4 linked regions of the Homo sapiens genome follow. The protein of the gene in region 1 interacts with the protein of each later gene in a biochemical or structural test. Each region holds a gene or a part of one and is shown in the gene's direction. Other genes may lie near its edges. The genes, in order: SNCA, CSNK2A1, SNCAIP and CSNK1A1.

The links.
Region 2: of the proteins of SNCA (region 1) and CSNK2A1, one has a biochemical effect on the other in vitro, tested with the Homo sapiens proteins (3 studies listed by BioGRID and IntAct).
Region 3: the proteins of SNCA (region 1) and SNCAIP form a complex in vitro, tested with the Homo sapiens proteins (3 studies listed by BioGRID and IntAct, with this or other methods).
Region 4: of the proteins of SNCA (region 1) and CSNK1A1, one has a biochemical effect on the other in vitro, tested with the Homo sapiens proteins (3 studies listed by BioGRID).

The regions. Positions count from the first base shown.
Region 1 is NC_000004.12:89,827,131-89,834,161, reverse strand, and holds part of SNCA (alpha-synuclein), read left to right. Parts: intron 1-5,977; coding exon 5,978-6,019; intron 6,020-7,031. UniProt on the Homo sapiens protein: Neuronal protein that plays several roles in synaptic activity such as regulation of synaptic vesicle trafficking and subsequent neurotransmitter release.
Region 2 is NC_000020.11:540,786-548,180, reverse strand, and holds the start of CSNK2A1 (casein kinase II subunit alpha), read left to right. Parts: upstream 1-4,390; 5' UTR 4,391-4,509; intron 4,510-7,395. UniProt on the Homo sapiens protein: Catalytic subunit of a constitutively active serine/threonine-protein kinase complex that phosphorylates a large number of substrates containing acidic residues C-terminal to the phosphorylated serine or threonine.
Region 3 is NC_000005.10:122,420,237-122,427,236, forward strand, and holds part of SNCAIP (synphilin-1), read left to right. Parts: intron 1-2,631; coding exon 2,632-3,503; intron 3,504-5,115; coding exon 5,116-5,295; intron 5,296-7,000. UniProt on the Homo sapiens protein: Isoform 2 inhibits the ubiquitin ligase activity of SIAH1 and inhibits proteasomal degradation of target proteins. Isoform 2 inhibits autoubiquitination and proteasomal degradation of SIAH1, and thereby increases cellular levels of SIAH.
Region 4 is NC_000005.10:149,548,417-149,556,444, reverse strand, and holds the start of CSNK1A1 (casein kinase I isoform alpha), read left to right. Parts: upstream 1-5,005; 5' UTR 5,006-5,480; coding exon 5,481-5,603; intron 5,604-6,079; exon of another isoform or gene 6,080-6,263; coding exon 6,264-6,370; intron 6,371-8,028. Other genes in the region: ARHGEF37 (rho guanine nucleotide exchange factor 37), read right to left, coding at 4,322-4,343.

The DNA.
Region 1 (7,031 bases):
GAGTTAATTTTAAATATTTTATGAAGTGTGAATTATACCTTTTTAGATGGAATTTGGAATACTGAATCAGTGACATGCAGTTTATCAATATCTTTCCGTTTGTCCTCAGATTTCCAAGTTCTGCAAGCACAAGTTTCTTTGACTTAGTTACCTTTTAACTGTTCATTGAAATCATTTTCAATGTCTCTCATGGCATTTAACACATAGCACATTCTATAAATTTTTTATTGGTTACATTCTGAGTTCTAATTGAGAGTTGAACTTACACACAGAATTTAAGATAAAAAATGACCATGTGAAGACACAATAGTATAGTCCAGGGATTGGCAAAATTTTGGGTAAGGAATCAGATAGCACGTATTTTAAGCCATGAGATCTATGTCTTGGCCAGGTGCCGTGGCTCAGGTCTTTAATCCCAGCACTTTGAGAGCCCGAGGCTGGTGGATCACTTGAGCCCAGGGGTTTGAGACCAGCCTGGGCCACATGGTGAAACCCTGTGTCTACAAACAACGCAAAAATTAGCCGGGTATGGTAGCATGCATGTGTATTGCCAGCTACCCAGGAGGCTGAGGTAGGAGGATGGCTTGAGCCATACAGCTCACTGCAGAGGTTGCAGTGAGCTGAGATCGAGCCACTGCACTCCAGCCTGGGTGGCAGAGTGATACCCTGTCTAAAAAAAAGAAAAAAAAATCTATGTCTCAATTCTGCTGTTGAAGTGTGAAGGTAGTCATAAACAATAACTAGTGTGGCTGTGTCCCAATAAAACTTCATTTATCAAAACAGGTGGTGGGCTGGAATTGTCTTGTATGTTGTAGCTTGCTGACTACTGATAGAGTGGAAAGAACATGCACTAATCACACAAACCAAAGTTTTAGTTGAGACTACATCACTTATCACCTTTAGGGTCTTGGGGAAGCGTACTTAACATCTCTGAGCATCACTTCCCTGATTAGTAAAAAATATGATTTAGAAAACTGCAACTACCTTGCAGTTTTTGTGGGAATGTCATAATAAGACAGGACATATGAATAATTGAGCACACTTTTATATATAGGAACCATGGTTATTATTATCAAATAAACTCTCCAACGGAATAATTACTTTGCCAACACGTTTTCCATTTATTCTTTTATCCTTCATTACATAACTAGTTTGAAAGATTGGAGGCGACCAAAGACCATTTTATAATTTCACTTATGGCTGAAGATGTTTGGTAGAAGCCTCATAAGAAAAGTAATCTCATTCCTTTATAAGAATATACTTTTAACAACTACTTTTTAACTCATTGAAGAACTACCTTAATGATCAGTGTTATTTTTATGGGTTTTGTTCCCTCCATTTTTGTTATCTGCGTACACCAATTTTCAATCAACATACTTCAATTTAATAGACAAAAATTTCTTCAAATGACTCAGAAATTAATTAGATCTAAATCCAAAAGCAGAAAGATTTAATTATCTTTATATAATGCTCAGTAATATAAATGCAATAAATACAAGAAAATGATGATCTTTGAGTGTCTTCCAATGCCACTCTGCTCAATAAGCAGCAGTGGCCATCAGTGAAATTGATAGCAAATTCTCAAGTCAAAATGTGCTTCACCTCACTAAGCTGACAAAGTCAACATAACATGCACAACAGGGATAACTGAGTTCTCAAAACTCTCAGGTATTACTTCTGACCTTCTTCTCCACTCTGTGCTCTTTTGAGGTTGGGAAGACAAGATAGGGTGTGTGTGGGACACCTCCGCTCAGGGAAGCCATCAGCTCTGGTGTCCCTACAGCATTTATACCTTGCTAGTCACATAACCACTTGGCACCTATTTTGTAGGTGTACGTTATCAATTACAGATTACTCATAAATTAAAGGCTAACCATCAATTACAGATTATTAGTAAATAATTATGACCTCAAAGAACAACTGATTGGTTTGATACATGGTAACCTTATGAGGACTCTCATTTATCTCGTTTTTTTAAGTTATATACCTATCTCTTTGGGGTTGCACTACAAAAATATAAAATATGTTGCATAAGATATTTATAAAAAATAATTAATTATAAGTTCTAATGGTGTGGTTTAGTGGCATTCTTTTTTTTTTCTTTTTTTCTGAGATAGGGTCTCAATCTGTCATTTCACTCCAGGCTGAAGTGCAGTGGTGTGATCTCGGCTCACTGCAACCTCCGCCTCCTGGGTTCAAGTTATTCTCCTGACTCAGCCTCCTGAGTAGCTGAAATTACAGGCATGCACCACCATGCCCGGCTAATTTTTGTATTTTTAGTAGAGATGGGGTTTCACCATGTTAGCCAGGATGGTCTCGAACTCCTGATCTCATCATCCCCGACCTCGGCCTCCCAAAATGCTGGGATTACAGGCGTGAGCCATTGCACCCGGCCTAGTGGCATTCTTTTTTAAAAATAAATTTAATTGTGTATATTTAGGGTATGCAACATGATGCTATCAGATACATTAGACACTAAAAAATTACTATATTGAAGCAAATTAATATATTCATAATCTCTCATAGTTACCTTTTTTGTTGTTTTTGTGGCAAGGGCAGCTAAAATCCACTTATTTATCATGAATCTCAAATATAGTACAATTTTATCACCTACAGTCCTCATACATTAGATCTGTACACTTTTTCATCTTACACATCTGCTACTTGCTTGGATCCTATGGCCTATATGTCCCTATTTTCTACCTACTTTTCCACCCCTATTAACCCTGTTTTTTACGTAGTCTCTGTATATTTGAATTTTGTTTCAAGCTTCCACATATATGTGAGATAATGTAATATTTTTCTTTCTGTGTTTGGCTTATTTCACTTAGCATAATTTTGTCTGGGTTCATCCATGTTGTAAATGGTAGGATCTTGTTTTTTTAGGGCTGACTGATATTCCATTGTATCTATGTACCACAATCTTTTTATCTACCTATCTATCAGTAGACACTTTAGTTGTGGCTATTATGTTTTTCTTTTTTTCTTTTTTGGAGACAGGGTCTTGCTGTCACCCAGGCTGCAATGGAGTGGTGTTATCATAGCTCACTGTAACCTCAAACTTCTGGGCTCAAGAGATCCTCCTGCCTTGGCCTCCCAAGTAGCTGAGACTACAGGCATACATTACCATGCCTGGCTAATTTTTAATATTTTTTGTAGATATAGCATCTCACTCTGTTGCCCAGACTGGTCTCAAACTCCTAATTCAAATTTAGAATAGAGTATGACAATTCTGTAAAATATAAAAAACATGTCCACTCCGTATAGGAAGTTATACAATGAGAAGAAGACAAACACTATTTACATTACTCTTGATAAGTTTTTTACAAAGAAATAAAACACTTTAATTTCTAATGTTTTAAATTCTGGTTTGCTAAATAAATAAATATTAGTTTTAGTGTTTTTAAAATTCCTTATATAGTTATAAGTGATCTTCCTGCCTCAGCCTCCCAAAGCACTGGGATTCCAAGCAAGAGCCACTGTGTTGGGGCCCTTGGAAACAGATATGCTGAAATCTTTTCTTGTGGATCTACACCCAGAAGAGGGATTGCTGGGTCATATGCTACTCTATTTTTAATTTTTCTTTTATTTTTAGTGAATATGTAATAATTGTATATAATTGTGGGATCCAGAATTATATTTCCATACATGTATACAATGTGTGATAATCAAATTAGGGTAATTAACATATCCATTACCTGAAACATTTATCATTCCTTTGTGGTGGGAACAGTAAAAATTAAAAATTCTCTCTTCTAGATTTTTGAACATATGCAATAAACTATTGTTAAGTATATCACCCTACAGTACTACAGAATGCTAGAACTCATTCCTCATATTTGGCTCCAATTTCATATTCTTTAACCAACCTCTCCATATCCTCCCCTCCCTCTTACCGTTGTCAGCCTCTAATAATCATAATTCTACTCTCTACTTCTATCTCATTGTCTTTGATTTAGAATATGTTTCATAATTTAACCAAAGGTCAAATTCTTAGGTACTGCTAAGGCAAAGAACAAAGATCGCATTCCAGCTGTTAGACATTTCTTACTACTAGTCATTTTTAAGACAACATGGGGTGCAGGTGGTGAGGATGAGAGATAGAGATTGAAACATATTCTCTTAAATATCAGCTGTTCTCACTCTGCATAGTTCCAGCACAAACAAATTCCAGGTACTATGGTTAGTTAAATAACACCAGCCACTAACAACACAATTCAAATTTCTGTTACCACAGTATACCGAAAGTCATTGCATAAAGTACAAACTTTGCTGCTAACTCTTCAGCCTTCAAATCATTACATAAATAACAGAAACCCATTATAATCAGTGACAAAACCACAGCACTTCTTTCAAAGCTTTTTGGAGATTGGTTGCTTCACATCTGTTATGCAGTTCATACAGACAGCAATGCCCGGACTTGTGTGGCCACATTGTCTCCCAGTGGTGAGCCCATGTGATGTTTCACGAAAATGCGCAATCAAAAGAGGAAACTGGCCAGCAAAGATGAAAGAGTAGCAAACAAAGGAAGTGAAACATTCTGGAAGTAAAATTTGAATCAAACATAAGTTGATGTATACAGGAAGTAGCTACCCTGAGGATGTTGTCACTGCTGCAATTCAGGAGACTCTAAATATGCAGTCAGAGGAACGTAGTGAGGTGAAGGTATCCGTATAATGGGGAAAGAGGTTGTGATAAAGAGTGAAGGTGTCCCAGAGGAAGTGTTGCTGAAAAATACACCTTATGTTAAATACACTGTCAGTATATCATGACATTAAAGTGCAAATGATAACATTTTGTAAACTGATCCAAACTTAAAAAGGAGTATGATAATTCTGTAAAACATAAAAATCATGCCGATTCCATAAATTATACAGTGTGAATTACACTGAAAAATCCAACATTAGAGAGGATATGAATACAATTTTTTACAAGCATAATTTTAATAATACACATAATAATTATTTGTATTCAAGTTTAGTAATGTTCAAGGTTTGGAAGAAATTCTGATCCTGTGTAGAGACCCTAGTTTGAATGTGCTTATAGCCTATTATTACATGTGTAATGTTACATAAATTACTTAACTCGGATTTTTAATTTCATCAGCTATTTAAAATGGGCATAATATAACTATATTAAATGGCTGTTATGAAGATTAAATAAGATGATATGTAAAATGTGTTTTTTGTTTGTTTGTTTGTTTGTCTGTTTGTTTTTTTGAGACAGAGTCTTGCTCTGTTACCCAGGCTGGAGTGCAGTGGCACAATCTTGGCTCACTGCAAGTTCTGCCTCCCGAGTTCATGCCATTCTCCTGCCTCAGCCCCTCCCAAGTAGCTGGGACTACAGGCACCCGCCACCACGCCTGGCTAATTTTTTGTATTTTTGGTAGAGATGGGGTTTCACCATATTAGCCAGGATGGTCTCGATCTCCTGACCTCGTGATCTGCCCACCTCGGCCTCCCAAATTGCTGGGATTACAGGCATGAGCCACTGCGCCCAGCCTAAAATGTTTTTTTTACATAATGGGTGTTCAGCACATGTTAAAGCCTTCTCTCCATCCTTCTTCCCTTTTGTTTCATGGGTTGACTGATCTGTCTCTAGTGCTGTACTTTTAAAGCTTCTACAGTTCTGAATTCAAAATTATCTTCTCACTGGGCCCCGGTGTTATCTCATTCTTTTTTCTCCTCTGTAAGTTGACATGTGATGTGGGAACAAAGGGGATAAAGTCATTATTTTGTGCTAAAATCGTAATTGGAGAGGACCTCCTGTTAGCTGGGCTTTCTTCTATTTATTGTGGTGGTTACTGGAGTTCCTTCTTCTAGTTTTAGGATATATATATATATTTTTTTCTTTCCCTGAAGATATAATAATATATATACTTCTGAAGATTGAGATTTTTAAATTAGTTGTATTGAAAACTAGCTAATCAGCAATTTAAGGCTAGCTTGAGACTTATGTCTTGAATTTGTTTTTGTAGGCTCCAAAACCAAGGAGGGAGTGGTGCATGGTGTGGCAACAGGTAAGCTCCATTGTGCTTATATCCAAAGATGATATTTAAAGTATCTAGTGATTAGTGTGGCCCAGTATTCAAGATTCCTATGAAATTGTAAAACAATCACTGAGCATTCTAAGAACATATCAGTCTTATTGAAACTGAATTCTTTATAAAGTATTTTTAAATAGGTAAATATTGATTATAAATAAAAAATATACTTGCCAAGAATAATGAGGGCTTTGAATTGATAAGCTATGTTTAATTTATAGTAAGTGGGCATTTAAATATTCTGACCAAAAATGTATTGACAAACTGCTGACAAAAATAAAATGTGAATATTGCCATAATTTTAAAAAAAGTAAAATTTCTGTTGATTACAGTAAAATATTTTGACCTTAAATTATGTTGATTACAATATTCCTTTGATAATTCAGAGTGCATTTCAGGAAACACCCTTGGACAGTCAGTAAAATGTTTATTGTATTTATCTTTGTATTGTTATGGTATAGCTATTTGTACAAATATTATTGTGCAATTATTACATTTCTGATTATATTATTCATTTGGCCTAAATTTACCGAGAATTTGAACAAGTCAATTAGGTTTACAATCAAGAAATATCAAAAATGATGAAAAGGATGATAATCATCATCAGATGTTGAGGAAGATGAGGATGAGAGTGCCAGAAATAGAGAAATCAAAGGAGAACCAAAATTTAACAAATTAAAAGCCCACAGACTTGCTGTAATTAAGTTTTCTGTTGTAAGTACTCCACGTTTCCTGGCAGATGTGGTGAAGCAAAAGATATAATCAGAAATATAATTTATATAATCGGAAAGCATTAAACACAATAGTGCCTATACAAATAAAATGTTCCTATCACTGACTTCTAAAATGGAAATGAGGACAATGATATGGGAATCTTAATACAGTGTTGTGGATATGACTAAAAACACAGGAGTCAGATCTTCTTGGTTCAACTTCCTGCTTACTCCTTACCAGCTGTGTGTTTTTTGCAAGATTCTTCACCTCTGTG
Region 2 (7,395 bases), on another chromosome or scaffold:
TCCCAAAGTGCTGGGATTACAGGCATCAGCCACCGCGCCCGGCCTACTAATTTTTATAAGACATAAAAATTTTTATTCTACTAATTTTTATAAGACATACATCTCCAGCTGAACGCAGTGGCTCATGCCTGTAATCCCAGGACTTTGGGAGGCCAAGACAGGCAATCACCTGAGGTCAGGAGTTCAAGACCAGCCTGGCCAACATGGTGAAATCCCATCTCTACTAAAAATACAAAAATTAGCTGGGCATGGTGGGCACCTGTAATCCCAGCTACTCGGGAGGTTGAGGCAGGAGAATCGCTTGAACCCAGAAGGCGGAGGTTGCAGTGAGCCAAGATGGCATCATTGGACTCCACCCTGGGCAACAAGAGTGAAACTCCATCTCAGAAAAAAAAAAGACACACATCTCCTAATTATTTAAATGTGCTTTTTAAATGTTTTCTGATCAAACTACTGTTTGTCTCTTGCTTTGTATCGTATAACAGAATGTCAGGGCCAGATTTCTATGTCAGGACATAATACTGTCTTCATTCTTTTCAATGGCTTTGTCACTTGCTGTGTGACATTGGACTAGTTGTTTAACCTCTCTGAGACTTGGTGTTCTTAATCTCTAAAATGGGGATTAAAAATGTACTGGCCACAGAGAGCTGTTGTGAGGATTAAATGAGTTAATAGATGTAAAGCATCTTGTACAGTGTCTGACACATATTAAGTGCTCAAAAATGTTAGTTCTCATTGCTGTGAATAGCCCCATGTCTGGCTGTACCATAATTTCTTTAACCAGTTCCATGCCTACGATTACTTATGTGATATAATGTTTGCAAAGGTGGCCACAACAATTCCACCCTCCTTATACACATGACTCCTTGCAGTATGATTTGATGTTTTTCTCATGAAGAGATGGAATCTATTTCTACTCTCCTTGAATCTGAGCTGGCCATATGACTGCCTTTGATCGATATAATACAGTGAAAATGATGCTATATCATTTCTAAGCCTAGATCTGAAGAGATCTTGCTGCTTTTGTTTTCTTTCTTCTGGGGGCCGTCATGTAAGTAAGCCTGAGTTAGCTTACTGAAGAAGCAACATGGAGGAGAACCAAGGCACTCAAGCCAACAACCCCAACCAACTGCCAGACATGTGAATGAGGCCATGGAGTTCTAACCAGTTTGCTGGCCTGTTCACTGACAGCAAACGTAAGAGTAAGCCAGGAAAGACCACTTGGAGCAGAAAAGAGCTGTCCTGGCTGAGACATGTCCAAACTGCCAATCCACACAAACATAAAATATTGTTGTTTTAAGCCACTATATTGTGGGGTGATTTTGTTAAGCAGCAATAGAAAGCAAATACACTTAGGTTCTTAGTGCATGATTAAAACTTTTGCCTGTAATTCTAGCACTTTGGGAGGCCAAGGCAGGGGAACTGCTTGAGCCTAGGAGTTCAAGACCAGCCCTGGCAACATAGCAAGACCCCATCTGTACAATAATAATAATAGTAATAATAATACTACTAAATTAAAAATGAGCCAGGCATGGTGGTGCATGTCTGTAGTCCTAGCTACTCAGGAGGCTAAGGTGGGAGGATCGCTTAAGCACAGGAGTTCAAGGTTATAATGAGCTGTGATCATGCCACTGCACTCCAGCCTGGACAACAGAGCAAGATCCTGTCTCAAAAGAGAGAGAGAGAGAGAGAGTCACTCTAATGGCCCAGGTTGAAATGCAAGCTCCATCTCCGGCATGTGACCTTGGGCATGGCCTGTGATCTCTGTGAACCTGAGTCTCCTCATCTGTACGGTGAGATACTTTTGGTTTCTACCTCATCAGGTTGACATGAGGATTAAGTGAGATGATGAACATTCAGTGTGTGGCACAGTGCAAGTACTCTCAACATCTTAACTCTTGCTTCTGCTGCTGTTGTTTGCAGAAAGACTAGCCTGAGAGGTGTGATGTGGGGGATCAGAGACAGTAAGAGTTAAGGATAAATGTTAAGTCTACAACTAGGTGAACACTTGGGATGGGAAGCCTCTTGAGACCGGAGACCTACATGAGGCTGGCGTAGTAGACGGCAGGAGTTGGGTTTCAATTATGTCCTGCATGAGTATGAGGGTTGTATATGTGTGCCCAGGTGAGCCCTCTGAATGAAGTCATGGATAGAGGCCAGAACTAGGAAGAAGAATGAAGAACTAATGCTGTGAGAGAGGCTGAGATTGGAAAGGCATGAAGGCTAAGCAATGGGAAATATCCTCACTACACTCAGATGAAAACCCAGCTTCCTTATCATGACCTGAATGCCCTGCCCACCTCTCCCACCATATTTCTTCCTCTTCTTCCCTTTATTTGCAGTGCTTCAGCCACCATGGCCTCCTTCTTCAAACTTGTGATGCTCTTTCCTGCCTTGGGACGTTTGCACTTACTGTTTCCTTCTCAAAGGGACCTTCTGAACCACTCAAGCTAAAGCTCTATACTTCACAGCTACTTATCTTTTCCTTTCGTAGCACTTATTGCTACCTGAAATTACTTTGTTTATGCATTTGTTTACCTGTGCATTACTTGCTTCTCACTTTAGAAGGTAAGCTCCACCAGTGAGCAACTGGTGTATGTCTTCCTCATAACACATCCCCAGTACCTAGCACAGTGTCTGGCTCATAGCAAATGATGAATTGTTGTGAGTTAAACAAATGTGAATACAGTTGGGAAAAACAAAGCCACAAGAGCCAAAAAGATACGTTCGAGAGGTAGGTAGAAGGGTATCATTTCCTGGAAGATGGCTTCCCAGAAACTTTGGGATTATCTTGTATAACCTCCTCAGTCCACAAGTGGGGAAATTGAGGCCCAGTTACAGGACACTGAGAGAAAAACTGTTGTGGGTTCCCAGGCAATTGGGATCAGATGTCACAAGCTGTCTAGCAGATGAGGTCCAGAGAAGGCCACAGCCACCTCCCTGAGGCCATCACTATAAGTCTGCAGCCACCACCAGCCCTAACCCCACATGGGGAAGAGGTGCCTCTTTGGGAGCAGAGGTGCTAGTCAGCTGACAAACTGTGAAGGCAGGGCTGTGGAGGGTGGAGAGGCCCATTCCTGAGACAACCAGCTATTCTGAGACAGTTAGGGATAATGGTTGGTACTGAAAGAACCTGGCCTCCTCACCCTCGTTCCAGTGCTCACACCTCTGTCCCACCAGAGGTGAGACTAATACTTGAACTCCTTTCAGCAACTCTTAGACGCTTCAGCTTTTATCAGGGCCTGCAAAGGAGAGGTTGATCATCAGATGGAGCCCTGTCCACTGGGGGCTCCCAGTCTGATGGAGGAGACAGACTGAGGTCCTCAGGTTACTGACTGATAGTGTCTGGGTTGGAGGGAGTTAAACAGAGAGGAGACCCCTAGAGGAAAGGATCCCTGAATTAGTTCAATCGGCATACAGAAATTATCCAGTCCATGAGGTGACAGTAAGAGAAGTAACTGCCAGTGTAAAGGGAGGGAGGCAACACAGCTAAGTTCCAGGAATTGTTTGCAGTCTTGTGGGTGGAATCTTCCGGAATTTGAGAAGAGAGTGGCAGAATAGGAGGCTGGAAAGGAGGGTTTGGCCAAATTATGGAGGACTCTGAATGTCAAGTGAAGAGTTTGGGCTATCTTTGGTGCATAAAGAGGTCCATGGGAGATTTTTGACCATAGGGAGACCATGATGAGCTCTGCATGGTAGAAAGTGCTTTGTGGCTGTTTTGGGGAGGTAGCTCGGGCAAGGAGAGCAGGGGTGGGAGGCAGATAGAAGGAAAAAAAAACACTGTATTTTGGACGCACAGCTCTTGGCAGGACTCCTGTAGGAGGAAGGAATTGGGCCTTGGTCTCTTGAGAGCTAGTATCCTCACTTCTCAGACTCCTGCGCCATGCCCTTCCTAGGGTCCAACTTTCATTCACTTCTTCCGAACTCCAAGTTTGAATAGAAAGTGTTGCTGAAACCCTAATTTAAAACGAGGGGTCAGAGCAAAAGAGACTTCAGCTCCCAGAATGCTTGGCTCTACAGCTCTGCAGGTCGCGCATGGTTCTTTTCAAGAAAGGGGGGCCAGCTGGGTGAAGTGTGGGAAACCTGGGTACCGCCATCTTAACTTGGGTCAAACCAACTGTTCACCTAATGGGAGGTTCGTGTTCTCTCTGTTGTCACTTGTTAACACTATTGAAATAAAATGCGCTTAACTATTGCAAGTCTCCTTATTCTGCTTTGCGTTGGGGATTCCTTCCATTTTGCACCCTAGGCCAGAACTGAATCCCTAAGGTTACAATAGGACATCCCAGCATGGCCGCATTCAGAGAGATTCCTCTGGGGGCGGAGTCGGAAGCTGTCTCGCCCCGCCTCCTGGTAGGAGGGGGTTTCCGCTTCCGGCAGCAGCGGCTGCAGCCTCGCTCTGGTCCCTGCGGCTGGCGGCCGAGCCGTGTGTCTCCTCCTCCATCGCCGCCATATTGTCTGTGTGAGCAGAGGGGAGAGCGGCCGCCGCCGCTGCCGCTTCCACCACAGGTACCTAGGGAGCAGCCAGGCGAGGTCGTTGGCGGGTGGGGTGGGCCCAGGATAGGGCAGCGGAGCGCGGCCGACCCTCACGCTTCCAGCAGACTCCTGAGCGGCCCGTCGCCTTCCCCTGCCCCCACCTTCACACATAAACCAAGCGAGGCCCCTGCAGCCCATCGGGGAGGCCCAGGGGCCACCCCTCAGGGCGGAGGGCGAGGTTTGGGGGCAGAGGCCGATGTGAGGGTGGGAACCGGCTGCCGGAGTCCAGCTTATTGCAGAGGAGAGGACTGAACTGGGTGGGGACTAGGGGACAACTTGGAGGAGGGGGTCGTCAGAGGGGGAAGGGAACTTGAGGGGTGGGGCCGCAGGGGGGTGCTGGGGGAGGGTGCGGAGGGAGTGGTGCCTGCTGGGTAGTGTGCAGTGAACCCTCCCGCGAAACTGGGCAGCTGGAGTAGGGGCCTTCTTAGGGTCCCTCTGGGCGGGGCTGAGCTTCCCACCTGCAGAGTGGGTGCGAGGTGGAGAGAACCCCAGGCGGGGTTGCTGGGGCGAAAGGGGGAAGGGACCAAGACGTGGGGCAGAACGTCTGGAGTTGGAGTTAAGGACTAGTTAGGAGCCTGGATAGAAAAAGAGGTATGGAGAGAAAGCTTGGCTAAGGGTATACATATGTTGGTGACCTTTTGAAAGAGTAGGACTTTTCAATTTTGTTTTTCGTTGTGTGTTTTTTGCAGTGTTGGAACATTGCTAGATTAAGCAGGTGATGGGTGGAGCTTCTGTAGTTTGTTTTGGGGAAGCAGAGTCAGGGTCAGGAGAAGTTGCATCTTGGCTATTGCTTTGTGTGGAGGAAAGAGTTTTGAAAAGAAGGTGGCAAATTATTTGGGAAGACTTGATTACTTTTCAGCTGTTTAATTCTACGAGAATGGGACATGGGGAGAGGAAATGAAAACTAAGAAGAGAGGCCGGGCGTGTGGCTCACGCCTGTAATCCCAGCACTCTGGGAGGCCGAGGCGGGTGGATCACGAGGTCAGGAGTTCGAGACCAGCCTGACCAACACGGTGAAACCCCGTCTGTACTAAAAATGCAAATATCAGCCGGGCTTGGTGGCGCGCGCCTGTAATCCCAGCTACTCGGGAGGCTAAGGCAGGAGAATCGCTTGAACCTGGGAGGCGGAGGTGGCAGTGAGCTGAGATCCGCCACTGCACTCCAGCCTGGGCGACAGAGCGAGACTCCGCCTCAAAAAGAAAAAAGAAAACTAAGAAGGGAAGATTTTTCCAAGAATTGGAGACTTCATTCCATCTGAGGAGTGCAGTGTAGGCCCAGTGGTTAAAAACCAGACTGCCTAGGTTCTCAAATATCAGGGCCATTGCTACTTAGCTGTGTGACCTAAACTCTCTAAGCCTCAGTTTTCCCGTCTGTAAAAGGGGGATGATGGTATTTTCTAGCTTGTGAGTTTACGGAGAAGAGTAAATAAGACAATTTGTGTCAAGTGCTTACTACAGTGTCTGGCAGGTAGTAAGTGTAGTAAGTAGCTTTTACCTGTCACTGTAAAGGGACTAGCTGGTATATTTGGGGCTCTTCTGTTCTAAGTAAAATTTATAGTCAAGAATTTGACTGTAGACAGGGCTTTAGAGTAGTATCTTTGTAGTTGTTGTAGGGTTTTGTTGTAAGTCATTTGGCTTTACTGGCTTGGTGGACCTGGGGCTGAAAGTCCAGTACCAATACTAGTTCTCCTCCGTGGTATTCTCAAAAGTTCACCTGCAGTCTTAGCAGGGCATGTTTTTGTCCTTCTGTGACTTTGAAATACTTGGCTTTGGTTTGCTATTGCGGGAGGGTGTATGACTTGAAGAAAGAATGCAAGATTGGAAATTTGCTTAGATTGATTAATCAACTGATTATACAGTTAGGTCCCCGTGAGGTGACTTTTCTTTAAAAATAAAAAAAAGCCTAGTTATGTACTCCTTTGTGGAATACAGAGAAGAGAAATACACATTTAAGGAGGAGCATGGGTTAGTTTCTAAGTAGTTATGGGTGAAGTGCCTTGCAATTTGAGGATGAAACAGGTGGCAACTCCTTTTCCATACTGCGCGTCCTTTTCCTACTCACTCATCCAGAGTGAGTCCTTGTTTTTACTATTGTCTCTATCTCTGAACATACATCTTTGTGTCACATAAGTAAAGACATATGTATGTATGTATATATACTTTACTTCACATAAGTAAAATATATACATCTTTACTTCACACTCTGTTAAAGAAAGGGATGATTTTCTTTAGGAAGTGAGTTTAAACCCTTCCATAGGACTTGGATTTGTAGTAGGCAGAATTACATCTCCCTCTTCCCAAGGTGCCATACCTTGATCCCCAGAATCTGTAGCTATCCTGTGTTACATGGCAAAAGGAACTTGGCAGGTGTAATTAAGGTTAAGAATCTTAAAATAGAAAAATTATCCTGGATTTTCTGGGTGGGCCGAATCTAGTCACTTAAGTCCTTAAAAGCAGAGAACTTTCTCCAACTGGGATCAGAGAAATGGGCAGAAAAGGAAATCAGAGATTTGAAGCATGAGAAGGACTCCATTTGCCTTTGCTAGAGAGGACCACATGGAAAGTTTATCAGAAGGAATGTGGGCAGCCTCTAGTGGCAAAGACCAGTCCCTGGCTGACAACCAGAAAGAAATGGGGACCTCAGTTGTGCAACCAGAAGGAACCTGAATTTGGTCAACAACCTGATTGAGCTTGGAAGTGAATTTCCCAGTTTCCACCAAGGAATGCAACCTTGAGACACCTTGATTTTTGGCCTCGTGAGACCCTAAGCAAAAGACCTAGCTAGCCAAGCCCACCCAACTTCTGACCTACAATAACTGTGAGATAACAAATTTGTGTTATTTTTAGCTACTACATTTGT
Region 3 (7,000 bases), on another chromosome or scaffold:
ACAGAATTCATTTCCATAGAGCGTTTTTAATGGCTCCTGTCAGAACAAAACAGCTGGGAAACATATGGTATCCATTTCCCTGTATCACTTGGAAAAAATTTCACATGTAAATAAAGCCAACATAAAAGAGTAGCCCTTTGAACCTACGACCTTATATAATACATAAATATATTGGTACAATGCACTCGTTGTATTGACCTACTAAGTTATGTGGCTTTAAAATTTTTTATTACATTCTGAGATGCACATTTTCTAGAGCTTCCAAAGAAATCAAGGTAATTGGCAAAATATTACTAAATATACTCAGTAATAAGAGTGTATCTCAGAAATGTCTATGAGTATATATATATTTTTTTTTCCATTTTATTTAAAGCCTTGCCGAAAGTTGATGAATAAAATTAAAGGCATATTTGCATCTTATAAACTCTATGTCCACTATCTGCTGTTTTAATTAAATAAGTAACCATGTGTTCTTGAGGAGAGAAGACTTGGCAGAAATTTCTGGCAGTCATTAATTTTTCATGGCTTTATATTTTTAGAGAGAAAAGTTCATATAAAAGATAGAAAACTTCTTAAATTTATGAGACCAACTGTAATTAGTCTTTGCCTTTGCATATTTACATTTCATAAATAACTTTAGCAAATTGATCTCTTACTGGTGATTATCACTCCACTGAGTTTATAACAGGATTTTGTCCCCTGTGAAATTAAACTGTAAATCCCTCAGAAGGATGCACTTTGTGCATTTTAGAAGATTTAATGTGTTGTGCAAAGTGAGATTCAAATTCACATACTAGCATTTGTTAATTGTCTGATCTATGCCAAGCACTGTGTACAACTGAGAACTAAAGCCAGCAAAAGGGAAGAAAAGCAGCAGCCTAAGACCATCTAGATACCTTCCTTCCCTTCTGGAACATTCTCTTCTACATTACTTATTGGAGAGAATCGAGCCCTCCTTCCACAGCTCGTAGTATTCTCTTCTTAGATTCTAAAATGTCAGAGCCAGAAAGGTCTGAGAAGTGGACTGCATAGTGCAGACCCTTGGAAACCTCATGCAAAACTGTGGTCAATTTCAGGGAAAGAACTCACTGATAGTTATATAGCATTCAGGCTCAGAGCACTCACTCTCATCCCGTTAGCTTGGTTCCAGAACTTCTCTGAATCCTTTTAGAACATATCCCAGCAGGAAGAAGAATGACCAGTAGCTTAAATTTAGGGAACTTTAATAATGTATGTTCCACTTTCACCCTAAGAATCAGTCATAGCCAGAGGCTATGGCAGAAGTTATAGATGTGAGTATACACCCATCTCATGTTCTTTTTTTCTTTGGTTGTTCCCAGTAGCAAAGAACACACACATACACATGCTTCCCACTTGTTTCAGAAGAGAAGCGGTAAATGGAAAGTCCCTAGTTGTAGGGCATGCCCCCTGAAATCTCATCCTTTGATGGGGGATGATAGGAACTACATGGCAGGGAACTAGGAACCCATAAATCAGTGGCCTGCAAGTTTCCAAGGGTACTGGGTCATCTTTTATCTAGCAGTGGAGTGGCCCAGGGAGGAAGCAGTATAATCATATCTGAGGAGACTGTTATTGCTCCATCTGCTTGCCTCAAGAGAAGGCACCAGGCAGCCTCTCATAACCAGGAGAGATGGCTCTTATCTTTCACCTCCAGGTGTGTCTGGCTGTTTCACTTTCTACTCTATCGCAACCAGACACTTACTCAAATGCAAACCAACACACAATCTTTATCCAAACTTTGCACAGAAATTAGAAAAAAAAAAAAAAAAAACCACTCTGCCTGACCCATTTTCTTTTCAGAACTTTCTTCTCCTGTTTGTTTCCAGCCTTCTCAACAATGGAGGGCAGTATTGAATCCTAAAGAACATGTTCTGTTGTGAAGTGTTAGTGCATTCTGTCACTGTGTCATATGTCAGAAAGCACCATGAAATGTTGCTGCATGATAGTTGACCAGGGTACTTTGACCAAGGTGGGGTTAACTCAACTATGTCTTCTCTCCCACAGTCCTTTCAACTCCTGAGCACTGTATTCCTTCCTATTCTTTCCCTAATCCACTTAATGGCACACCTAGGGAGTCACTCAAGGAGGTCATAGTTTGAATTTGCTCAATATTAAATAATTTGCCACTTCTTTTCATGGGACTTCTTGTGCATTAGGGGTGTATGTGGACATGCACGCTAATGTGTGTGCATGTGTGCATACGTCCCTTTTCTCCCTAAATCAGTTTGGAAGTTTATTTAACACTGAAGATCTTATTCTCTAATCTTGTTTTTCAGGGTGGTGACAAATATAAAAATATTGCCAGGGAGGTAGATCTATCCAGGGAATAAACCTAAATACCTATCTGGGTTTGCTTCCTTAGCCATTTACCTGTACCATTATTATTACTTTAATTAATTTTGAGTCACTGTGTTATAACCTTCTTTGATCATTCACTGTTTTCCAATGGTAAGTATGATTTTTTTTGTTCTATTGATGTGCACTCTAAGTCATCCTCACACACAGAACCTTAATTTGAACATAATGTGAATGAACCACATCTACCTGCATAGCCAAGATGTGTTCAGCATTCCAGATTAATAGCTTTCTATTTTAATTTTTTAAAAACAGTTTCTAGCTCTAGCTGGAATTGTGGCATCTCAACTCTTATTACAAACACGCAAAAGCCCACAGGAATCGCTGATGTGTACAGTAAGTTCCGCCCAGTGAAGCGGGTTTCGCCACTGAAACATCAGCCAGAGACTCTGGAGAACAATGAAAGTGATGACCAAAAGAACCAGAAAGTGGTTGAGTACCAGAAAGGGGGTGAGTCTGACCTGGGCCCCCAGCCTCAGGAGCTTGGCCCTGGAGATGGAGTGGGCGGCCCACCAGGTAAGAGCTCTGAGCCCAGCACATCGCTGGGTGAACTGGAGCACTACGACCTCGACATGGATGAGATTCTGGATGTGCCTTATATTAAATCCAGTCAGCAGCTTGCCTCTTTTACCAAGGTGACTTCAGAAAAAAGAATTTTGGGCTTATGCACAACCATCAATGGCCTTTCTGGCAAAGCCTGCTCTACAGGAAGTTCTGAGAGCTCATCATCCAACATGGCACCATTTTGTGTTCTTTCTCCCGTGAAAAGCCCTCACTTGAGAAAAGCATCAGCTGTCATCCACGACCAGCACAAGCTGTCCACTGAAGAAACCGAGATCTCACCTCCTCTGGTTAAATGTGGCTCTGCATATGAGCCTGAAAACCAGAGTAAAGACTTCCTAAACAAGACATTTAGTGATCCTCATGGTCGAAAAGTTGAGAAGACAACACCAGACTGCCAGCTCAGGGCCTTCCACCTACAATCCTCAGCAGCAGAATCCAAACCAGAAGAGCAGGTCAGTGGCCTAAACCGGACCAGCTCCCAAGGCCCAGAAGAAAGGAGTGAGTATCTGAAAAAAGTGAAAAGCATCTTGAACATTGTTAAAGAAGGACAGATCTCTCTCCTGGTAAGTATAATCTAGTTCAGTATACATGTCAATAGACTGGAGACTCCTTTTTAATAAACTGCATTCGTTAGTAACAGAACGATGCTGCATTTGTTTTGGTTTTTACTTAATCTTTACTTGTGGCTTTAGTTGGGAGATGTGACCTTTTGAGTTTTAAAATAAGAAGTTATGAAGTTAATACAGGGAAAACAAATAACTATAGAGGGAGTGTTATTTCATTTTAACTTTGCATGAATTCAACTGAAGACTCTTAATCTCAAAGAGAGCCCGGCACTTTCTTTAACTTGAATCTCAATGTCTTTCTTTTTGCTTTTCAAATGGTTCCCAGTGCTCTCACGCAGCTATTTGTGAGGATGTCAATTCTTGGCTGATGGTGGACCTGCCAGACATGTAAACAGAGGGTCTTCTGTTTTGTCCTGATCATTATTCAGAAGAATTGGACCAGGTTGTTTGAAAAGCATTTGTAGATAGAAGCTTACCCAAGGGCTTCATTGCCCTCTGACCCAGGTGGAGTTTTTACTTACTTCCAGCTCTGCATGTCTAGGGAGCATGAAGAAGCTTTTCCAAAGACTCTAGACACAGAGTAACATGATGTAAGAAAAGTCTGTTCTGCTTTGGCTTAGAGAGAGCTAAACTTAAATAGCACTCCATCTGCCTACATTGTTCTTTTCTGGCTTCCAGACTTGGATCAAACAGTAGCAAGCCTGGGCTCGTACTATGATGCTAATTAAAGTCTCATTCAAGAAAATCATCACATCTTGGCAATGTGATTCTACTTAGTATAAAGCCATGCATACTTAAGTACAATGTACTTGCTCTATTATCACAAATACTATTGTGATAGGGTAATATAATTGAATAATTTTATGAAATAAAGTAGTATTTTTTCTCCTGAAAATGTCTTTTCCATTTTCCTGGCTCTTCCCCCTAATTCTCTTTGGTTCATTCCTTTCTTTTGTCCTTCTCATGTTTTCATGTTTCCCAAATGCTAAAAACACCTCTTAGCTCACCCAACAATCTCTATCAACGAGTTCATAGTCAAGGGACAAAAACTTCACTAGAGATGAGAAACCAAAGCCATGTAGCCTCCAGATACCCCCAGGAGTTTGTTTGATGACAGTGTCTAGAGGTACCTATGAGAGCACTAGTAGCAGCAGTCATCATGTTGTTTGCCATAGCCAGTTCTCTACAATTCAAGGCAAAATAAACAGGTAGAGACAAATAGCTCATTCATTCAACAAACATAGAACAGGGAATAAAACCCAGCCCCAGCCCTCAAGGACTTCACAATCAAGTAGGGGAGACAGACAGGGAACCTGACAATTACTGTAAATGTAATTATAGTTCTTTAGAAAGCCAACTTGAAGCCTCCACACCTCATTGGCCCTAGCCCTGTTGCCATGTCTCGTATGAAGATCTGTCTCTCGAGAACTCATTTTCTAAAGCATATTGTAACAAAGAATAATAGCAAGAAACTGATTTATTAGATCCCCAAGGCTGCCACCAGAGCTTCTATAAGCTCATTTCTTCTTTCCAGTGCCCAGAGAAAAACTCCTACAGGGTCTTGCTCTGATTTATTGACTTGGGTTTTCTAATCTTACTATTTATACAGCCACACCTAGCTGCAGACAATCTAGACAAAATTCACGACGAAAATGGAAACAATCTATTACATATTGCGGCGTCACAGGGACACGCAGAGTGTCTACAGCACCTCACTTCTTTGATGGGAGAAGACTGCCTCAATGAGCGCAACACTGAGAAGTTGACTCCAGCAGGCCTGGCCATTAAGGTGACTGGTTGGGGGCTGGAACCTCCACAGCTAGAAGCTGGATTTCTATTTTTTAAGATTCCTTGTGAGCTAAAGTGTTGGAAGGGAGAGAAGAGAGTGATTTGTCAAGCAAAGAGCAAATGAACATATTGCATTTAAGAGAGTAATCATTTCAGTCACTGCTTTGAGATTTTGAGACTTAATTCCCAGTTTTTGTCAATCTGCTACTAAAGAGAAAGGAAAATGATATGTTGTAGTTCTAACAACTTTTGTTATTCATAGGGATTGCAATTAAGCTTCTTAACCACACCTGGATCTATCAAAGACTATCATTTCTTCCTAATATGACAATAATGAGCAAGACGAATGTGGGGAAGGTGTGTTTTAAGGATGCTAGCACTCGGGAGTATTTCAGATCACAAAGTGGGCGCTTAACGGATCACATCTGAAGTTTGAGTGTCTTCAGTATCAAGAATTTTTTAGAGTATCAGTGCCGAGTTTGAGTTTAGCTCTTGCAGAGCACAGTACGCTACCAAAAACTACACAAATTAATGTCGACTGGAATAGAGTTAAAACCTAGAAACTGTGAGACAAGAAACATGGACTTTTATAGCACTGCAGCAAGTGCCTCTGCAAAATATAGCACATCACTAGAAGATTAGCTATTCAACTAAAATTACCTAAAAGATCTTTGGCAAATAAATGTAGAATCCAATCATATTTATTAAAAAGCCAGAAGTGACATTCAGGGAAATATAATACATCTTGTATTTTTGCATATGTGCTTTGCTTTACATAATAGTTGTGTCTTCTAAAAGCTGAATAATCATAATTTTTATAAATTTAATTATATTGAAATTGGTGAGGGGAATTTGTTAGAGAAACCTACATGTGAATTCACTAAAGAACGTTACATTTAAAAAACCATTAACTGCTGTTCTACCTTAATATATTTTTTACGCAAACCTGATTTTTTTGTATTTTTAATTTGATGATTCAGCAAAGTTTTATACATTAAAAAATAATTTCCATTTTATTTAATTTTGCTCGGTTAAGCAAGGTAATTAATAAGGTATACTTCAAATCTAGCATAGAAGATAATTTTTTAAATAAAATAAATCTATGACCCTGGTAGGTATTATTTTGCTTTGGTTGTAAGTGATATGATGTTGAATTAAGAAGTAAACTTCAGGCAGCTATCATGAAGAAAGATAAATAGAACTAAACTACAGGCAGCTATCATGAAGAAAGATAAATAGAACTAAACTACAGGCAGCTATCATGAAGAAAGATAAGTCAAATGTAAAGTCGAGATTTAATATAGTTGAGCTTAACAAAGTGTACCAAGTTTACCAGGTACTGCGTTTGGTGGCTGGCAATACAAATTTGTATAAGTCATAGTCCCTACTCTTAAGGAGCTAATATTATTGCTAGTGGATAAGACTGGTAAGTTATCAGTAACACAAGTATAGGATGGCAAATTTGGGATATAGCCCTGTGACAGAGTTCTGTAGACATCAATGAGCATGTGTCAGTGATAAATATTCTTGCAGTGCTAATGAGTGTTAAGATTTGCCTTGCTGTTTTAGTGTTTATAAAATACAGTTCTCATTAGTCTTCCTAATGGTAGATTATTTATATAGGTAGAAGAAAATAATTTTTTTTAATTTGTATGCCCTAGGGCTTGTTTTGATAGATTAAAAATCTCTGAGTAGAAGGTACATAA
Region 4 (8,028 bases), on another chromosome or scaffold:
TTGCACTCCAGGTTGGACAACAAGAGCGAGACTCCATCTCAAAATAAATAAATAAATAAATAAATAAATAAATAAATACAAAAACTAGCTGGGCATGGTGGCATGTGCCTGTAATCCCAGCCACTCAAGAGGCTGAGGCAGGAGAATCACTTGCACCCGGGAGGCGGAGGTTGCAGTGAGCTGAGATCGCGCCACTGTACTCCAGCCTGGGCGACAGAGTGAGACTCCATCTCAAAAATAAATAATAAATAAAATAAACAACACTTGGGACACTGACGTTTCTAAGGCATTCCATTTTTCTATTTACTTGCACCAAACAATTCTAGAGATTGGCAGGCTACCCTTCTGTTTTTAGCATCCATCTAGACTTCTTGTGCTTGTCTCTATCATTTCACTCAAAGCACATTCTGGATACCAGTGACCGTTGCTTGAGTAAACACTGTGGCTTAAAAAAATGGTTTTTGTTTTTATTATTTTAAAACATTTTTGTAGTGATGTGGTCTATGTTGCTCAGGCTGGTCTTGAACTCCTGGCCTCAAGCGATCCTCCTATCTCAGCCTCCCAAAGTGCAGGGATTATAGGCATGAGCCATCACACCCAGCCAAGAAAAAAAAAAGTTTTAAAATTCATCTTGAATTCCCTACGAACACAGAAGTAATCCCTGGGACATGATTGTCCTAATTTGTGTTCTACTCTTTCCTTTTTCTCTTTCTTTTGGTAGTAGTTGTGGCTCTAGTCCTGTCACTGCCACTAAGATCTCTATGATTTTGGGCAAGCCACTTTGTCTTACTGGGGCACAAATGATATGTGTGAAAGTACTCTAAATTGCAGGCTGGGTACAGTGGTTCTTGCCTGTCATCCTAGCGTTTTGGGAGGATGAGGCGTCAGGATCACTTGAGTCCAGGAGTTCAAGACCAGCCTGGGCAACAAGGCAAGACACTATTTCTACAAAAAGTTAAAAAAAAAAAAAAAATTAGCCAGGCATGGTGGTGCCTGCCTATAGTCCTAGCTACTGGGGAAGCTTGAGGCAGGGGGATTGCTTGAGCCCAGGAGGTCTAGACTATAGTGAGCTATGGTGGTGCCATTGTACTCCAGCCTGGGTGACAGAGTGAGACTTTGACTCATAAGTAAATTGCAAAGCATTAAAAAATACAATTATTATTATTGAACTAGGTGATCTCTGTATTTCCCTCAAGGTCTAAAATTTTTATTTTTATTCTACACTTTTGATATTTTTAGTGAATTCATCTGATCTAGAAGCCAGAAATTGCTCTTTGAAGACTCCTTTCTTTCTTTCTTTTTTTTTTTTTTTTTGAGACAGAGTCTCACTCTGTAGCCCAGGGTGGAGTGCAATGGCACGATCTCAGCTCACTGCAACTTCCGCCTCTCGGGTTCCAGCGATTCTCCTGCCTCAGCCTCCTGAGTAGCTGGGACTACAGGCGCCTGCCACCACGCCCGGCTAATTTTTGTACTTTTTAGTATAGACGGGGTTTCACCATATTGGCCAGCTGGTCTCGAACTCCTGACCTTGTGATCCGCCTGCCTTGGCCTCCCAAAGTGCTGGGATTACAGGCGTGAGCCACCGTGCCTGGCCTAAAAGACTCCTTTCATTACACCAAAGCTGCTGCTGATTCAATAAGTACAGAATGATTTGTGACTTTAACAGCAACACCAAAAACAGGTTATTCTTCAATCTTTTAGGCTAAAATTACTGCAAATGATACATGACTTTAAGAAGAAGGCTGAGTCATAGCCAACACCTGAGGACTTCATTTTCTATGTAAAAAAAAAAAAAAACAATTTTGCCATTCTTAAATCCAATAAATTTAAATCTTAAGAAACTAAAATCACATTTGAAAAGGCTAGACCCACTCACATCTCATTTTTGTGCATTTTGCTGGGCACTGTCAGTGTTGGAATGGTGACTATAGCAGGCAGGAAACAAAGGAGGACTCATACCTTATATACAAAATTATAGAATCTCAGGGTTAGAAGGGTTTCCAGAAGTCATTTAGACCAGTAGAATTTAATGGGCTTACACAAGTTCTAAAAAAAAGGCGAGGAGGATTAGACATACAAGTACCTATCATTCATTCATTCATTCATTCATTTATTGAGACAAGGTCTCACTCTGTTGCTCAGGCTGGAATGCTGTGGTTTGATCATAGCTCACAGCAGCCTGGAACTCCTGGAGTCAAATGATCCTCCTGCCTTGGCCTCCCAAAGTGTTGGGATTACATGCATGAGCCACCGTACGCAGCTTTCAACTTTTTTTTTGAGACAAAGTCTCACTCTCTTGCCCAGGCCGGAGTGCAGTGGCACAATCTCGGCTCACTGCAATCTCTACCTCCCCAGTTCAAGCGATTCTCATGCCTCAGCCTCCCAAGTAGCTGGGATTACAGGCATGCGCCACCACGCCCGGCTAATTTTTGTGTTTTTAGTAGAGACAGGGTTTCACCATGTTGGCCAGGATGGTCTCGAACTCCTGACCTCAGGTGATTGCCCTTCCTTGGCCTCCCAAAGTGCTAGGATTACAGGTGTGAGCCACTGCACCCGGGCTCAACTTTTAACCGAGCAAGAATATTTTAAAAACCAAAACCATCTACCATCGGCACCTTTTTATAAAAGAGCATTTTAATGACACATATGTGAAAAGACTAAATCTCAGAATGAAATATAATGTGAAATCAGATAAATAAATGAAAGATGTATTGCTTACTTTTCTCACATCCTCATGGCAAACTTTGTTAGCCACTTGCACCTGTCCATACACAGATCTTTGGGAATCACTAATTTAGACCACTTCATGCCCACCCTTACCCTGCCCCCGGCTTCATTGAGCATTTTTATCACAATACCAAAATATCCGTCTAAATGTATACCTCATCCCCTTATGGAGAACTCCTCAAGCTGAGGAATCCATTAAACTTTGGATGTGTGTGAGAAAATTAGCAGAAAAGGAGTGATCTCTGGAAAACTCAAGATGCTTAAACTTGGCTTTTTTTTTTTTAAGACCAGAATTGATTAATTAATTAATTTTTTAGATGGAGTGGAGTCTCGCTCTGTCTCCAGGCTGGAGTGCAGTGGCACGATCTCGGCTCACTGTAACCTCTGCCTCCCAGGTTCAAGCGATTCTCCTGCCTCAGCCTCCCTAGTAGCTGGAGCTACAAGGCACATGCTACCATGCCCAGCTAAGTTTTGTATTTTTAGTAGAGACAGGGTTTCACCACGTTGGCCAGAATGGTCTCGAACTCCCGACCTCAGGTGATCCAGCCGCCTCGGCCTCCCAAAGTGCTGGGATTACAGGTGTGAGCCCACCATGCCCGGCTGCATTTTATATCAGAATTTAACAGCAGATTTTAACTTAGTCAAAACATGCTTTAGAGTCACCAAAGGAGAATGATGTCTAACAGTGCTGATTTGGGAGTTGGGCACCCTGAGTGTTGGTTGGGCTTTAAAAACTTCATGCTAAACTTCAGGGGAAGTCTCCTCCCCTCTCTCTTCAGTTGTCTTCCGAGATGAACCCTATTACTAATTACTTGACCACCTTTCAAAGTTGCAGTTAAAATTCTTCACATTTTTCTCCCATTTCTATTTAATTAATTATTTTTTTTTTGAGACAGGGTCTCTCTGTTGCCCAGGCTGGAGTACAGTGGCGTGATCTAGTCTCACCGCAACCTCCGCCTCCCGGGTTCAAGCGATTCTCAGACTCCCGAATAGCTGGGGTTACAAGTGTGCGCCATCACACCCGGCTAATTTTTGTATTTTTAGTAGATACGGGGTTTCATCATGTTGGCCAGGCTGGTCTCGAACAACTGACCTCAAGTGATCTGCCCGCCCCGGCCTCCCGAAGTGCTGGGATTACAGGCGTGAGCCACTGCGCCCGCCCCCCATTTCTATTTTAATTAAATTTTATTTAGGATAGGCTTAGCTTAAATTTTTACGACTGAGGTCTGACTTAAGATGATAGCATCAACCATGGAGTTTTCTTTCGTGAACATTATTATTACTAAGCCCAATTTTCCCAGGTCAAATTTTGTAAAACAAAACGTGGTCAAAATTTGATTCTCTGATCGATTTTTTGTAAAAAAGAAAAAAATTACCGTGTAGTTTTAAATGTTGTCAATTAAATTTTGTAATAGTTACCTCTACTCTGTTCAGGTTAATACTGAGGTTTTCAACAAGACCAACATACGATTCTTTTTTTTTTTTTTTTTTTTTTTTTTGGTGGGGTTGAGGGGACATAACAGTTTTTTCACTCTTGTTAAATTAATTTTCTGTTGATTCCATCTATCCTTAATCTTCATTATGAGCAACATACCAGGTTTTCTTCTGAAGATCATATGTGGTAGTGAGGCAATAATGCAAAGACATAGGATGGCAGGGGGATTCCGGCTTCTTTCTTTCTTCCCCTCCTGTGGAAAGAGGGTCTATAACACTCCGTAGTAGATAGGACAATTCTAATTATGAAGGGTAATTAGCTAGGCTCTGCTACAACCGAGAGCCCTGAGAGATTCCTCGACGCTGGCTGCTTTTCTCTTCCTCTCCACCAGAGGCGACAGCCTCTTTCCAAACAGAAACTGGGTTGGAATAGGCCGGTCCGGGGGAACGGCCAGAAGAAAGATCAAAGGTTAAAAACCGCCTCAAAGAGCACAGGTCAATACCCAACTCCTAAGGAGGCCTTAAGCTTTCATCTGCCACGAAACATGAAGGTGACTCCTCCCAATATCAAGGCCGGGGGGCCACTCAGCCTTCCAGAGACCCGGCGGGTCCGAGGCGAGTAACAGGTAACACCTGCTGAGCCGCCGCCGACCGGAAGTGGAAGAGAGCCCGGGACGGGGGTGAGGACAGGCCGCGGCACGCCTGCGCAGTCAGCAGGAGTTGCAGCGCTCATGCGCAGCTGGGCGGTGACAGGGTGACGCTCGGAGCGTGGGCCGCGACTCTCACGGATCCGGTTCCGCCCTCTCGCTGCCGATCCTTCGGAGCGAGCGCCCGAGATCCCTTTCCCAGAGTGCTCTGCGCCGTGAAGAAGCGGCTCCCGGGGACTGGGGGCATTTTGTGTTGGCTGGAGCTGGAGTAACAAGATGGCGTCGTCCGCGGAGTGACAGGGGTCCCTCTGGGCCGGAGCCGGCGGCAGTGGTGGCAGCGGTATCGCCGCCCTAGCTCACCGCGCCCCTTTTCCAGCCCGCGACGTCGCCGCGCAAGCGAGGCAGCGGCGGCCGCCGAGAAACAAGTGGCCCAGCCTGGTAACCGCCGAGAAGCCCTTCACAAACTGCGGCCTGGCAAAAAGAAACCTGACTGAGCGGCGGTGATCAGGTTCCCCTCTGCTGATTCTGGGCCCCGAACCCCGGTAAAGGCCTCCGTGTTCCGTTTCCTGCCGCCCTCCTCCGTAGCCTTGCCTAGTGTAGGAGCCCCGAGGCCTCCGTCCTCTTCCCAGAGGTGTCGGGGCTTGGCCCCAGCCTCCATCTTCGTCTCTCAGGATGGCGAGTAGCAGCGGCTCCAAGGCTGAATTCATTGTCGGAGGGAAATATAAACTGGTACGGAAGATCGGGTCTGGCTCCTTCGGGGACATCTATTTGGCGATCAACATCACCAACGGCGAGGTAATCATCTGGGGTGGGGTTCACGATAACGCTGCGCTTTTACTCATTCCCCCCACCACCACCGTGCACCCCCAAAGTGCTCGGGCCTCTCCTCATCGCACGCACTCGCCAGGGAGTCCAGGGAGCTAGTTTTCCTGGCTTACGAACCTCGTCCGCTGTCTCCCTAAAAGGGTCAAGAACCCGATAGAAAGGTTGGGGGAACTAGTTTCCCACCTTGTTAAACACGTCCCATAAATGTCCCTTAGTCGAGCTTTTTTTTTTTTTAACCGTCTTTTAAGGTGGAAACGGCAAAATCCTCTTTCAGTGATTCCCATGTTTTTTTTTTTTTAATTCTTAATTCTACTGGGCCTCTTGTTCCAATTAGAACAGTTTCCGATCGCCTAGTTCCTTAAAAACCTCTCACTACGTTCAGAGGTTGCCTCTTTTTTCTGGATGAATCATTTTCCTGCACTTTAGAGGACGTACGGATTTCGTCACTACCCCCTGAAGAGGCCTTTGAGGCTGGTTGCCTCGTTTTATAATTACCGAGAGCTTTCTCTTTCCAGCTTTTCACTTCTTCTTGTAGTCGCGACTTGGAGTTTTGCTAATGTCTCCCTCCTTTCCTAAGTGACATTGAATCCGTAGGGATGTTGATGCCATCATCCCCTCTTTCCCCTGCAGGAAGTGGCAGTGAAGCTAGAATCTCAGAAGGCCAGGCATCCCCAGTTGCTGTACGAGAGCAAGCTCTATAAGATTCTTCAAGGTGGGGTTGGCATCCCCCACATACGGTAAGAACCCGGTGCATATAGGCGATCCGCTGAGGGAAGCACGGAATGGGGAAGTGGGTAGAGGCAGGTAATGAGACCAGCTGAATCCGGGTCTTGGTGTTTTAGTTACCTGGGTTCCCTATAGCTGGTGGTTTCCTGTAAGTCAGTCATCTCAATTACTGAGTAAATTTCAGTTTGCCAACTTATTTCATTGTATTACACTGCTCCATTTCGCTTCCGTCATTCTCACTCTTCCCGAGGCTTTCATTTGCAGTTATGCGTGCAGGTCATCTTTGATCCCTACGCGGAAGGGTTGGCTGCTGCCTTTTTTACGGCGGCACTTCTGATGTACTTAGGTTTGTCCAGTGAAGTGGATTTGAAGGTGCCGAAGCGACCCGGCAGTGTCAGTTCGAGTTGCTATTGGAGCTGGCTTGGGAAATGGCTGCTCTTTTGTTGTGTTTTTGTTCCAACATGTCTTCCTCCTCCGCTTAGAAAATGGCGGAACGACGTGACTCAACCCCATATTCCTGCCCTTTTCTCAGCTTGAGTTCACAAATTATGCTTCCTTGATTCCTCCTTTAGCAGCCCCGAGTGGATTAAACCTTTGAAAAGCCAAGAATAAAGCTGCAGGAGGCGGTGTGGAGGTTCGAGGAAGGAGATGGCATAGTGACAGTGTTTGTGATCTCTGCAGCAGATGTGACACGAAATTGTTGAATTACACTATGTAAAATCCTTCGTAGTTCTTTTAAAAGTGTTAATTACTCTTTCTTTTCGTGAATGGTCATATTTGGCACGTTTCAGTCGGGACTAAATTTGTATAGGTAGTGGCAAAGGCAGTTTGAGCAGCACCAACTATGTTAAAATTTACTCATATCAGTTGTATTTAAAAAAATCTTAATCACTTAGCCACACTTTGATAAGTAATTTTAACCTGTTGAGTTTGTCAGTAAATCTTCACATCAGAGAAATTGGGGCCTTTGTTGGTGTGGAATATTGGTGAGTGCAAATAGCAGTAACGAGGATAAAAGATGACGAGATAGACATTGTTCTGTCAAATGGTTAACTTTACTTTGGAGGGTTTTAATGTTTTAACTTTTGGGATTAAAGATCCTCTTCATGGAATGGAGACTAAAATATAGTTTAAAGCCCAGCTATTTTCCAGCAATAATCTAAAATAACATTTGCAAAATTATTCAGAATAGGTAAGAATGGTACTTACTGTTTACTGGAGCCTCTTCTTTAAGACGGAGTTTTCGCTCTTGTGGTCCAGGCTGGAGTGCAATGAATGGCACGATCTTGGCTCACTGCAACCTCTGCCTCCCGGGTTCAAGTGATTCTCGTGCCTCAGCCTCCTGAGTAGCTGGGATTACAGGCGCCCGCCACCACGCCTAGCTAATTTTTGTATTTTAGTTTCACCACGTTGGCCAGGCTGGGCTCGAACTCCTGACCTCAGGTGATCTGCCTGCCTCGGCCTCCCAAAGTGCTGGGATTACAGGCATGAGCCACTGTGCCCGGCTTTTTTTTCTTTTGAAACGGAGCCTTACTCTGTTGCCCAGGCTAGAGTGCAGTGGCGCAACCTTGGCTAACTGCAGCCTCCGCCTCCCAGGTTCAAGTGATCCTCCTGCCTCAGCCTCCCAAGTAGCTGGAATTGCAGAGCTGCACTACTACGCCTGGCTAAT